Linked DNA regions of Homo sapiens: region 1 is linked to region 2. The links come from fine-mapping of genetic effects on plasma protein levels. Region 2 holds a variant in brackets. A gene starts in the other region. All regions are shown on their forward strands.

Region 1 (2,500 bases), not on the chromosome of region 2:
ATCCCCCAGGCAATTCGGCGTCATGAGAACCGGCACCCCGAGACTCGGCGCCCTGCCCTCCCTCCGCGTCTCCAGGGCCCTGGCCAGGCCCAACAACCTCTCCCTCCTCTGTGCGCCTCAGCCCCTACGGGCCTCTGGCGCGGGCTAACTAGGCCTCGCTGCGGGCCCCCAGGACTGCGCACCCCACCCCCCGCGAGGCCAGCAGCCCCGGGGGAAGGCGGCCGGAAAATCTCTTGTTTATCGGGCTGGATAAGTACCAGCCTGGATTCGCTTCCCAATTTCTGCGGTCCAGCTTCAGCAGATTCCTGGGGCCGGAGGGGAAAGGGTGGCAACCCACAGATCCACCCCGGAACAGGGAGTGGGGGGTGGGGCTGGTGGGAACCTGACCTCCTGGAAAGGACGGACTCGGAGTCAGAGCCAACGTGTCCCGGAGCGCAGAGGCCCAGGGGGTCGCGCTAAACACTGTACCTCGGGGAACAAAACCGTGAAGGCTAATTAGGACAAGTCGGAGCAGGGAACGGGGACGCCGGGAGGGGAGAGCGCGCTCCGAGTTGGGCAGAACCTGGAACGGTCACAGGAAACCCGGGCGCGGGGTAGTCGGGCCGAGGGGGACCTTTGCCCACGGTCCAGAGTGGTCTGGACTCGGCCCACGCGTGAGAGGAGCGCTTGGTGACGATCCCACGTACGCTTGGTGACTGGTGGAGGTCCCAGAGAAGGACCGTGCGTGCAAAAGGCGAACCTCGGTGTGCGGTGTGTCCACGTGTGCAAGCTGGGGAGGGGAGGGGGCGCAGAAGGCGTGACAAAGACGGACTCTGTCTTGAGTGTGCGCCTCGCTCCGGCCCGCTCCCAGCGAACTGTGCCTGAAGTGTGTCTCACGGGAGGGCCAGGACGAAGGTGACAAAGGCTAGGTGTCCCCCACGGAGACGCGCCAAGGTAGCCCCGCGCGTGTCCGTAGGCGCGCTCTCTGGAAGACGCGGTGGGGGGTGCGCAGGGCTGCACCCTCACACCAATTGCCCCGGCGAAGGCCGAGCCCAGAAAGTGAGTGCGCGTGAGTGTGCGCGCGCCCGCATGCGGGGGCGTGGCAGTCAACAGCAACAACCCACACGCCGGCAGGGCCAGAAACTCCCATCTCCCTCACCAGCCGGAAAGTACGAGTCGGCTCAGCCTGGAGGTGAGTCGGGGCGGGGAGGGCCGGGCAGGCTTTGTTCCTGTGTAAACGGAGCGCACGTACCTGGAGCGCGGCGGGCGCCCGATTAGCGCCCTGAATGGAGGTGATGTAACGGTGATGCAGGCTCCAGCCCACCCTCGCCGAAAGCAAGGAGCCCTGCCTGGGGACAGGCCCGCGCGAGAGCGAGCAACCCAGCGCGCCTGGCTCAGCCTCGGTCCCAGGGAGAGGCAGGCCCTGCGTCCCGGCCCGGGCCCCGCCATCCCAGCCAGGACCGGGCCTGGCCCAGCGCCCCGCGCCGCGTCCCTCCCACCCCCGCCCGCCCCCCGCCTGGGGCTGGAGTTGGCCCCAAACGCTGCGCTGGAGCGGGGCCGGCGGCGAGTCCCAGGTAAGGGCTGCTGCCTTCCCGCTCCGCCGCCCGGAAGAGTCGGGTCGGGACGGCGGGGAGTGGGCGAGGGCAGAGGCGGGGGGACTGGACATCCTGCGGGCTGGGGACGCCGCGCCAACTCCGCTCGGTCGCTGAAAGTTTTCAAACCCGAGCCGGCTGGGGACTGGGGGGGTGGGGGAGCCCGGCGCTGCGGCTCGGGCTGGAGGGAGGGGAAACCACTCCATAATCGGGGTCTCCAAGAGGAGCCCCTCCACCGCCTGCCTCTCGGTGGGAGTCCGCGGTCACTCTCTCTCGTGGGTGGCGTCCTCTCTGCCGCCTGCTACTGTGGATGTGGAGGGCAGGTTTCTGTGGCCCTAAAAATGGGAGAGAGTGACTGGTTCCCTTGCTCCCCATTCCAGCCACCCAGGGAGCGCAGGTGTAGACCCCAGTACCGTCGACCCAAGTAGGGACGAGAGGGTTCAGAATCCCCCTGAGGGAAGTTTGGAAATTCAGACTATCAAAGCGCCTCCCCTTCTGGTAGCCTGGCCCCTAGATCCCGAACCCCCACTCCCGGCTGGCTTTTCCAGCGTCCTTTGCACCTCCATCCCCAGGCCCGCAGTGTTACACGCTGGAAGACCCAATCACTTACAAACTCCACGATCAAGATCCTAAAGCCCGGGAGAGGAGACTGTTGGAAGTAGGGTTTTGTGCTCCTGGAGCTTCCTCTCCCCGCCGGCCCCCCACCCCTGTGCCTTCAACTGGACTGGGGGAGGGAGTGCATTGGGGGGTGGGGCGCATTCCAGAGTGACATTCCAGAGCAGACCCTTGAAGATTTCCAAGTCTCAGAGAGCTCAGGGCATTTTGGCCCAAATGCCTGGTCTTGGTGCGGGGCAGGGGCAGGGGGATAGGGGTGGGGTGTCTAGGCTGAGGTTCGAGGAACCCCAACCCACCCCCCACCAACCTACACA
Region 2 (3,013 bases):
TGCTTGGGAGGCTGAGGGATGAGAATTGCTTGAACCTGGGAGTCAGAGGTTGCAGTGAGCCGAGATTGCACCACTGCACTCCAGCCTGGGCGAAAGAGTGGGACTCTGTCTCAACAACAACAACAAAAAAGCAATTGTTAAAAGAATAAGAAAACAAGCCACAGATTGGGAGAATATATTTGCAAAACAAATATCTGATGACCCAAAATACACAAAGAACTCTTAAAACCCAACACTAAGAAATCAAACAACCCCATTAAAAAATGGACAAACGGGCCAGGCATGGTGGCGGTGGCTCACATCTGTAATGCCAGCACTTTGGGAGGCCGAGCAGGGCAGATCACCTTAGGTCAGGAGTTCTCAACTAGCCTGGCCAACATAGTGAAACCGTCTCTACTGAAAATACAAAAATTAGCCGACCGTGGTGACGTGCATCTGTGGTCCCAGCTACTTGGGTGTCTGCGGCAGGAAAATAGCTTGAACCAGGGAGGTTGCAATGAGCTAAGATCGCGCCACTGCACTCCAGCCTGGGCAACACAGTGAGACTCCGTCTCAAAAAAAAAAAATGGGCAAAAGATGTGAACAGACACCTCATCAAAGAAGATATACAGATGGAAGATAAGCATATGAAAATATGCTTAACCTGATGTCATTAAGGAATTACAAATTGAAGCAACAAGGTACCACTAAACCCCTATTAAAATGGTCAAAATCCAGAATGCTAAAAACACCAAATGCTGGTGAGGATGTGGAGTGACAGGACTCTCATTCGTTGCTGGTGGAAATGTAAAATGGTATGGCCATTTTTAAGACAGTTTGGCAGTTTCTTACAAAACTAAACATAGTCTTACCATACAATCTAACAATTACACTCCTAGATAGTTACCCAATTGAGGTGAAAACTTATATCCAGGGCCGAGCACAGTGGCTCACACCTGTAATCCCATCACTTTGGGAGGCCAAAGAGGAAGGATTGCTTGAGGCCAGGAGTTCTTTCTTTTTATTTATTTATTTATTTATTTTCTTTTGAGACAGAGTTTCGCTCTGTCACCCAGGCTGGAGTGCAGTGGAGTGATCTCATCTCACTGCAATCTCTGCCTCCCGGCTTCAAGCGATTCTCCTGTCTCGGCCTCTGAGTAGCTGCTGGGATTACAGGTGCACGCCACCATGCCCAGCTAATTTTTATATTTTTAGTAGAGACAGGGTTTCACCATGTCAGCTAGACTGGTCTTGAACTCCTGACCTCAAGTGACCTGCCTGCCTCGGTCTCCCAAAGTGCTGGGATTACAGGTGTGAGCTACTGTGCTCAGCCAAGGCCAGGAGTTCCAGACCAGTCCTGGCAACACAGTGATACTCTGTCTCTACAAAAAAAAATTTTTTTAATTAGTCACATGTGGTGGCACACACTTGTAGTGTCAGCTACTGGGGAGGCTGAGGCTGAGGATCACTTGAGCCCCAGGAGTTTGAGGTTGCAGTGAGCCACGATTATGCCTCTGCACTCCAGCGTGGGCAACAGAGTAAGAGAAAGAAAGA[G/C]AGAGAGAGAGAGAGAGAGAGGAAGGAAGGAAGGAAGGAGAAAAGAAACGAAAAGAAAAGAAGGAAGGAAGGGAAGGAAGGGAGGGAAGGAAGGGAGGAAGGAAGGAAGAAAGAAAGAAAGGAAAGAAATAAAAAAGGAAAAGAAAAGAGAGAGAGAAACCTTATATCCATACAAAACCCTGCGCAAGAATGTTTATAGCTGCTTTATTCATAATTGCCAAAAACTGGAAGCAACTAAGAAGCTCTCCAATGGGTGAAAGGATAAACAAACTGTGGTATATCTGTGCAATGGAGTATCATTAAGTAATAAAAAGAAGACTTAGCAAACCACAAAAAGTAATATGCATACTAAATATGCATTTAGTAATATTAATATGCATTAAGCAATAAAAAAAGACGTGTCAAGCCACAAAAAGTAATATCCATATTACTAAATGAAAGAAGCCAGTCTGAAAAGGCTACGTGCTGTGTGATTTCAACTATTTGACTTTCTGGAAAAGGCAAAACTACAGACAGTAAAAAGATCAAGGGTTGCCGGGGGTTCTGGGGACAGGAAAGGATGAATAGGTGGAGCACGGGAATTTTAGGTCAGTGATATTATTCTATATGATACTATAATGGTGGATCCATGATATGCTTTTGTCAAAACCCATAGAAAGTACAACACAAAGAGTGATTCTTAATGTAAACTATGTGCTTTAGTCAACAATGTATTGATATTAGTTCATTAATTTTAACAATGTACCACACTAATCCAAGATGTTAATAATGGGGAAACTGCGTGTGAGGGAGGGGATACATGGGAACTCTGTACTACAGCTCAATAATTTTATAAATCTAAAACTTTTTTTTTAAATAAAGTCTCTTAGAAAACAATAAAAATAAAATAAAAAGTCAATTTTTTTTTTTTTTTTGAGAGGGAATCTTGCTCTGTCACCCAGGCTGGAGTGCAGTGGCACAATCTCTGCTCACTGCAACCTCTGCCTCCTTAGTTCAAGCGATTCTCCTGCCTCTACCTCCCAGGTTCAATCAATTCTCCCACCTCAGCCTCCCAAGTAGCTGGGACTACAGGCATGCGCCACCACGCCTGGCTAATGTTTGTATTTTTAGTAGAGATGGGGTTTCGCCATGTTGGCCAGGCTGGTCAAGAACTCCTGACCTCAGGTGATCCGCCCGCCTCAGCCTTTCAAAGTGCTGGGATTACAGGGTTGAACCACATGCCTGGTCTAAAATGTCCATTTTTAAAAGGCAGTCTGGCTGGGGCAGTGGCTCACGCCTGTAATCCCAGCACCATGGGAGAAGGCTGAGCAGGGTGTATCTCTTGAGCCCAGGAGTTCGAGGCTGTAGTGTGCTATGATGGTGCCACTGCACTCCAGCCTGGGTGACAGAGTGAGACTCTGTCTCTAAAATAAATAAATAAAAATACAATAAAATTTTAAAAGGCAATCTGCAGCAAGAGAAGATGAAGTTAGCAGGAGAG

Direction of the effects. Positions count from the first base shown, and alleles are read on the strand shown. Strength reflects both the effect of a copy and how common the allele is.
As copies of G replace C in region 2, the plasma level of the protein whose gene starts at base 1,118 in region 1 goes down (moderate association).

The links. A credible set is the group of variants that fine-mapping cannot tell apart. PIP is the posterior inclusion probability: the model's chance that the variant is causal. Protein levels are from antibody-based Olink assays in UK Biobank. Linkage for the fine-mapping came from a reference panel and not from the study's own genotypes, which makes the PIPs less certain.
Region 1: GPRC5C starts here. The variant in region 2 is the best candidate, but not a certain one, in a credible set for the plasma level of the GPRC5C protein (UK Biobank, PIP 0.62).

Annotation. Positions count from the first base shown.
Region 1 is chr17:74,430,971-74,433,470 of GRCh38, forward strand. GPRC5C (G protein-coupled receptor class C group 5 member C) reads left to right here and starts at 1,118. Exons shown (of 4, transcript NM_022036.4): 1 at 1,118-1,171. RefSeq lists a silencer at 1-130.
Region 2 is chr20:3,722,935-3,725,947 of GRCh38, forward strand. No RefSeq gene overlaps it. Among named protein-coding and RNA genes, the nearest start is that of HSPA12B, 8.2 kb to the right of the region's middle. The variant G/C (reference allele first, on the strand shown) is at 1,534.